2 linked regions of the Homo sapiens genome follow. The protein of the gene in region 1 purifies or fractionates together with the protein of each later gene. This does not show direct contact. Each region holds a gene or a part of one and is shown on either strand. Other genes may lie near its edges. The genes, in order: TFAP2D and DPYSL5.

The links.
Region 2: the proteins of TFAP2D (region 1) and DPYSL5 purify together in Homo sapiens (affinity purification with mass spectrometry; one large-scale study listed by BioGRID and IntAct). This does not show direct contact.

What each region holds. Positions count from the first base shown.
Region 1 is NC_000006.12:50,723,436-50,727,259, forward strand, and holds part of TFAP2D (transcription factor AP-2-delta), read left to right. Parts: intron 1-3,824.
Region 2 is NC_000002.12:26,854,346-26,858,169, forward strand, and holds part of DPYSL5 (dihydropyrimidinase-related protein 5), read left to right. Parts: intron 1-3,824. UniProt on the Homo sapiens protein: Involved in the negative regulation of dendrite outgrowth.

The sequences.
Region 1 (3,824 bases):
CCTTGCTCTTCTTCCTTTGTCAGTACTCTTCGGATTCCAGATGGATTACCTGGAATCACTACTCTCGCTAGCCAAAACTCATCTCTATGGTTCATCCATTATGGGTGAAGATAGAGCCAGAGATACACCTCAAGCCTCGCCTGCCTCCTTAGTCCCCAGTGCAGATTCTGCAGGTTTGAAATTCAATCTCCTTTATATGAAATCTAAAACTCTTGTACCAAAGCATCCAGAAGCATGATTTGTTGGAAATCTTTGTGGGCGTTGGGGGTTGTAGAGGGAAAGAGGTAGCTTTCCCACAGCCTACAGCCTTTTCTCTAATTTCTTTAACTGCTTTGAAAATCAGCAGAAACCAAAACACTTTTTGCACTGGGGAATGGGGATTAATCTCCCCCCAACCCCCGCCATACACACACCCTAATATACACCATTACACACCTACCGCCACATTAAACCAGCGAGTCTCTTCACGCACACCTCTCTTTTGTTCTGCCTGGAATCTACAAAAGGAGAAGCTCATTCGGCCCTGGTAATCCAGCTATACCTGTAATGTTATACCCTCCCCCCAAACAATTCGCTCCTTACACATCATCAAAGGCCTACTTGATTCCAATTAAGTCCGCATCCTTTGCTGTTTGATTACAATTAATATCTGCTGCCGTGGGGGGAGAGGTAACATGGGGGGAGGGGTAACATGGGGGAGGAGGGTTAGGAAGGGTGAGAGGCTAGAGAGGAAGCAGCAGAGAATAATTCTCCCCACCCAACTCACAGGCGCACCTCGCAGAAATGCAACCGCAGAACAAACAGGGACAGGAAACTCTTGTAATCGCTTACACATTTTTAATGTGTCAGAAAAAAAAGAGCGATCACTGGAGATGAAGAAGGGGAGAAGAAAAATCCCTGCCGTTTGTATTTCTTTCATTTGAATTGTAAACATCTGTTTGGCTGTAAGGCGAACAGATCATTTATTTTGCTCTCAAGATTTGGTCTAATTATGTCAACACCGACGCTACGACGAGTGGGGCGGCGCTGTGGCTTTGGAGAGGATGCGCGCACCGGCCCAGCGCCCGGAAGCCCGCTAGGAAGTATTGATCGCACCTGGAGAGCGCGCGGGACCTCTCGCCACAGCTGGGTGCGTTCTGAGACGGGGGAGGCGCGGAGGCCGTGAGTATGGCTCAGAGGCAGATTTAGAGGCTCCAGGGACCCGCGGCTCCTTGGAGACAGCCGCCGCTGTTTCCTCTGCCCCAGTAGCCTGGGATGAGAAGAGAAAAAGCTCACCCAGGCTCCGGCGCTTGTCTTTCCCATCCAGTTGCAGCACAGACGGTGGCGGGGTGTGTGTGTGTGTGTGTCGGCGGGGGGACCTGTCTTGTCCTACCCCGCAGTTCACACCCTGCAACGGGGTAGTTGTTTTTTTAAAAAAAAGTGGCGGGGTTGGGTGGCCTATAATCAGGTTGCCGAGCGTGCGTGCATCCATTTCCCATTGCACCTCCTTACAAGGTGGGGAGATAAGTAGAGCAAGTGTGAGCATCTTCATTGTTTAGATGGACAGACTAGACCCAGAGTCATTCGCCCAAAGTTGCGTGAGTCGATAGTTGGTCAAATTCTTACTTGTAGCCCGGTACTCTTTCCACTGCCCCACACTGTCTGCAGACACTGGCCAGATGTCCCCTGTTATGCCAAGGCAGCCAAGGTAAAGCCACCCCATGCTTCTTCAAACCGAATAAGATCTAACAAGATATGGCAGCTGGAGGATCTGCATCCATGTATTTTGTGCTAGTTTTGTCACACCTGAGCCAGAAGTCTCTGGCTGACTTCTTCCTGTAGCTATGGCAAAGTTATCCCTTTTAATGAAAGCCATGTCCTAGGCAAAGGACCTTGAGCAGATAGTTTCTGATTTCTTACCACTGTTACCATAGCTACCCATCAGAATTTGCAGCATCACTGAAAATAGAGAGCCCTATCTCCAAATTCCAAATTTAAAAATAGTGAACTTTGTGAAAGTATTGCTTCTGTGAACTGTATATGGAAAAGGGATGAACTCTGGAGAAGTTCTGCATGAATACACTGGCTATAGAATCAAAGACATTCTTAATTGTGATGCTGAATCTAGAATGATTATCACATAATTTCAATATGAGCTGACATGCAACACAAGCACCATGAGGAAGTTCAAGTAGTAACACTGGGGATGACTACTGTAAATGGCTTGGTGTGGGCCAACGTTTCATAACATTCTTCTTTGAGATCTCATCATTACCATCTGTAGTCTGGATTATCTTAAAGAAGTATCACTCCCTCAGCACCTTCAATCTAAAGGCAAAACCCTGGTGATATTGACCTACTACTTTTTTCCACCTCTCTAAAGAATAAATCACCAAGAAGAAAGATATCAGGTTCCCCAAGTTGCTGTAAACTCTACAAGTTGCCAAATCTTTAGCCAGGACTAGAGAGTTCCCCAAGGTTGCAGCAATGCCAGGTATCAAAGCAACAGAAATTCCCTTTAAAGATGCTGTGACATAAAAAATAAAAGACTCTAGAGTTGATGGCTAATCCTGAATACAAAATAAATCCTTCAGGCAATTTGTGTGTGCATAAAGCATACTCTTAATATGCAGCTTGTGTAACTTACCTAATAAATGTCTACTTGAGCATAAGCCAGAAGCCCAACCTAGATGTAGGAGAGGGAGACTCTGGGCCCAGGGAGTTAGCACGTGGGTAGATAGCAGACTCAGTGGCTTCCCTGGGAGCAGCTGGCTTTCAACACATAAGGTTCACTTTGCCAAAAGTCTTCCAGTTGGGGAGAGCCTGATCTAACAACTTCTTTTAAAAATGATAATCATCTACATCTCCCTAAATTAGGTTTCTAATCCACTGAAGATTAGTAAAGATAAGAAAGTTCTAAAATTGTGGTATTCCCTACCCTTAGCATCCAGGAAAATAATTCATACATATACTCAAACGCTCTGTTCTCTCACTTATCATAAACTTGAAGCTAACTGGCAACTGTGTGAGATTCCTTGTGTCCTCATTTGTATACTGGCTAGTATGCAAGAGAGGAAAGTTTATGTCAGAATATCAATTTGCTTATGATTTATAGTGACTGTGAGTAGAGATCCATTTTTAGAAGAGGGCTATGTGAATTTTGCATAAAGACATTGATTTCTCTTTGTTTAATATATTTGGGGTAGACTTATCTAATTCCTAAAATAATCAGGATCAAAATTCTCACAGTATGACTCTACACCACAGATTCATTAATACCTACCTTGCTTTCCTGTTCATCTAAAATTTTAAGAAGTCATTTAAGATTTTTTTTTGAAATGCATTTTGCATCTCTAAGTACAGAGTGAAACCGATAACAAAAGTGAAATGGTAGTCTTAGGTCCAGGAATCTGGGGGAACATTTTTATTGTTGTATTTTGGCTTAAAACTCGGTGAGAATATGAAGAGGGGGAAGTACAGGAGAATTTGTTTTTAGCTCCTAAAGCAGGTGTTTACATGGTTTGCCATTGTATTGGCTACAAGTTTGATGTCAAGAAATGGATTTTAATTTGACGATTGAGATTTTGAACTCTCAGATTTCTAACTGCGAACAGGTTTTCAGACACTGTCATGGAGGTTTTGGCAGAGTGCACAGGACCTAACTTCTAGCCTGAAGATGGTTGGCTACCCTGACATTCCCACTGATTACTCTTCTGGTTTTTGTTGGTTTGTTGTTTTTTGGAGGGACTTTAGAATGCTTAGGGAGAAAGATCTTGGTCTCCAGCACTTGCAAGGAAAACTTGGGTGACCAAAAGACAGTCAGGAAGAATTCCAGAAGGTACAGG
Region 2 (3,824 bases), on another chromosome or scaffold:
CTACTCAGGAGGCTGAAGCACAAGAATCACTTGAACTGGGAAGGTGGAGGTTGCAGTGAGCCAAGATCACACCATTGCACTGTAGCCTGGGTGACAGAGTAAGACTGTTTCAAAAAAACAAAAAACCACAACAACAAAAAAAGAAAGAAACCCTAACCATAAAAGGATCCATGCCTTTAAACAGTACCTCAAGCTGAGAACCTTATGAGTTGGGTGTGAGATTCACAGTTAACTAAATAATTTAGCAATAGGCTATCCCATTACAAAATGCTGCACCTTACCTTGTTTAAAATAGAATTTGGACCTCTTTTCTCGTCCAGGTGGCTTCTAGCCCAGAATATTGCTCAGAGTAACCATTCAACAGATAATATTGAAAGAATGACTGAATGGTTTTAGGTGATATTTTACAGGATTTTCCAGCTACTGAGACCTCTGGCTCCCCATTTAAATTTTTTTTCTTTTTCTTTTTCTTTTTCTTTTCCTTTCTTTTTGAGATGGAGTCTTACTCTGTCGCCCATGCTGGAGTTCAGTGGTGCGATCTCTGCTCACTGCAACCTCTGCCTCCCGGTTCAAGCAATTCTCCTGCCTCAGCTTCCCGAGTAGCTGGAATTACAGGCATGCACCACCACACCCAGCTAATTTTTGTATTTTTAGTAGAGACGGGGTTTCACCATGTTGGCCAGGCTGGTCTGGAACTCTTGGCCTCAGGTGATCCGCCCGCCTCAGCTTCCCAAAGTGCTGGGATCACAGGCGTGAGCCACTGCGCCTGGCCTCCCTTTTAAATTAGAAATCATCTGGCCCATGCTGGGCGCGGTGGCTCATGCCTGAAATCCCAGCACTTTGGGAGCCTGAGGCGGGTGGGTCATAAAGTCAGGAGTTCGAGACCAGCCTGGTCAATATGGTGAAACCCCGTCTCTACTAAAAATACAAAAATTTAGCTGGGCGTGGTGGCAGGTGCCTGTAGTCCCAGCTACTCAGGAGGCTGAGGTAGAAGAATCGCTTGAACCCAGGAGGCAGAGGCTGCAGTGAGCCCAGATCGCGGCACTGCACTCCAGCCTGGGTGACAGAGCCAGACTCCATCTCAAAAAAAAAATCATCTGGCCCAAGTAAGATTGAGTTTTTGTGAATGACTAGATTCTTTTGGAAAGAAAGGAGAACTTCTGCATTCTGAATTGTGCACGTGTCACTCCCTACTACCTAACATCTGTCCACTTTCATTGGTTTGGCAAAGGGGTTGAGGTCTGTTGCTGCCTGGACTCCCTGTGAATGTGTGTCTCCCACATGTTAGTAGTGCCCGGTACTCAATCACACCATCTTTGTGTCACTCCAGTGTCCATTTCTAAGCTGCCCCTTTGTTGATTTCAAATCCGCCATGGGCTGACTCGAAATTCTCACGCCTTGGGTCTTTATTCTCCCTTCTTTTGTCTGGTCCTGTCCCTCCCTTTGTCCTTCTGCAGAGCAAGATCCACTATTGATACAGAAGCCGCCTCCTTTCTAATTTTTTACTTCGGATTTCTGACCTTGTAGATTGATATGTTTGTTCTGTTATAAAATTCAAAAACAACCCCCAATTTTTTCATTTAATATCTTTTTGCTCTTGTTTCCAGCATACGTGAAACACTTTCAACCTTAATGAAGTTACTTAAATTGTTTTAAGTTTGCCGTATTGTCAAGTGGCAATACACATACATGAAACAGTCACTTTTGGGGGGTACAGTGGCTGAGGGTGCATTTTAAAAAAAACTAGTAAAGTATAACAGATAAACTGAGAAGTGTACAAACCATAAGTGTATAGCTTGATGAGACATACCCATGTAATCTGCACCAAATTAAGAAACAGAAAATTGGAGTCTCTGAGCCTACTATGGCTCAGAAGCCTGCCTGATTCAAAATCTTATTATTTAAAAAAGGGAAAAAAAGAAAGAAACAGAATTATCAGTACTCAAGGAGAGTCTCTAGTTACTTAGTATTCTTCCTCCATATCCTGACTGCTTATACACAGATCAATCAGCTTTGCCTATTTTTGAATTTTTACAAATGGAATCATGTAGTGGATATTCTCTCACCAGGGGCTTCTTGTGCTCAAGGTTATATTTGCGAGATTTCTCTTACTGTTGTATCTAATTTGCTTATTTTTTTCATTGCTATATAGCATCCCATTGTATGTATGTACCAAATGTGTCAGTTATGTTGCTAATGGTATTTGGATAGTTTCCGGTTTGGGGCTTTCATGGACAGTGCTGCTGTGAACATTCTAGTAGGTGTTTCTGTTGGGTATATATATACCTAGGAGTGAAATTACTGGGTCAGGGATACACACATGTTCTGTTTTAGTAAATTGTGCCAAATGCTAAGATTAATGGAGAAATTAAAAAAAAAATCCTCTGAAGTATACAATGCAGCTGTTTAAACCAAAATCCTAAAGACTGGCACAATATTATGGCTGGATCAGAGGTTGACTTCCAACTCTTATTCTTCAGCAAAAAGTAGAACTTTAAGCTATATCTCTGACTCCACAGTAATCTATCAGTTAAAAAAATTATATATATTATATATACATATATAATATATGTAATAAATATTATATATGTATATATAATATATATTATACTAGTTTTCAAGAATTGTCCACAAATAACCAATTGATTGGCTGAAATGAACACTTTTAAACTAAGCGGTGTACGTCTACCTTAGTCTTGCTACTGCAGTTTTCTTAACTCATGTTTCTTGAGGAAAAGATGAAAATCATATTATAAATGCAACATTGGTCCAGATATCATTCCAGAGATGTCCTGACAGCCTTGGGCAAGATTAACAAGTGCTTTTTATTGTTAACTAATTTATATTTCTTGTATTGGGTCAAATAGCAATTTTGAATTGTGTGATTTCTGTGGCTTAAAAAAAGTCTCAGCCAGGCGTGGTGGCTCACGCCTGTAATCCCAGCACTTTTCGGGCACAAGGTGGACAGATCACCTGAGGTCAGGAGTTCGAGACCAGCCTGGCCAACATATAGCGAAACCCCGTCTCTACTAAAAAACACAAAACTTAGCTGGGCGTGGTGGTGCACACCAGTAGTTCCAGCTACTTGGGAAGCTGAGGCAGGAGAATCGCTTGAACCCGGGAGGTGGAGTTTGCAGTGAGCCGAGATTGCTCCACTGCCCTCCAGCCTGGGCGACAGAACAAGATTCTGTCTCAAAAAAAAAAAAGAAAAAAAATCCCACAAAAGTGTCAGCTTGGAATCACAGAGTTCAGATTTCTTATTTGGCCAGACAGGATATTGATTTCTAATAATGGCCAGAATTCTTATTTCTTATAATAATTTCAGATTTCCTATAATGGCCAGACAGGACACTGCCTTTTTTAAATTTAGAAATAGAATTATGACATGTATCTTATTTTCTGTAGGTTTCTGGAAAAACTTAAAATAGATGTGATTTTTACAGTTGGATTATAATGGAAAGAACCTCTGCAACTAATGAAAAAAGTAAAGATAAGGCACAACAATATGAGCACTAACCTTCAGCCTGTCGCATCTCATGTTCATGGCCAGTATCGTCATGTGGCCCAGGAGAGATGGCAGTGATGGGCATGGCCAGTGTGCATAAAGGACAGTGGTTGAGGCATAATTATAGGATGGTGGTAATGAAACACGAGCAGCCAGAGGAGCCTGCCAAGGCAGTCATGAACTCCTAACTTGGCTGGTTTTTGCCTTATGTGATCCATTCACAGCCCAAATTGTTCCTGAGAAAGATTTTTTTTAGCATGTGGTCTGCCATGTTTGGTATTTGTCTTTATACAAACAAGTGAATGAGATCAGACTTAAC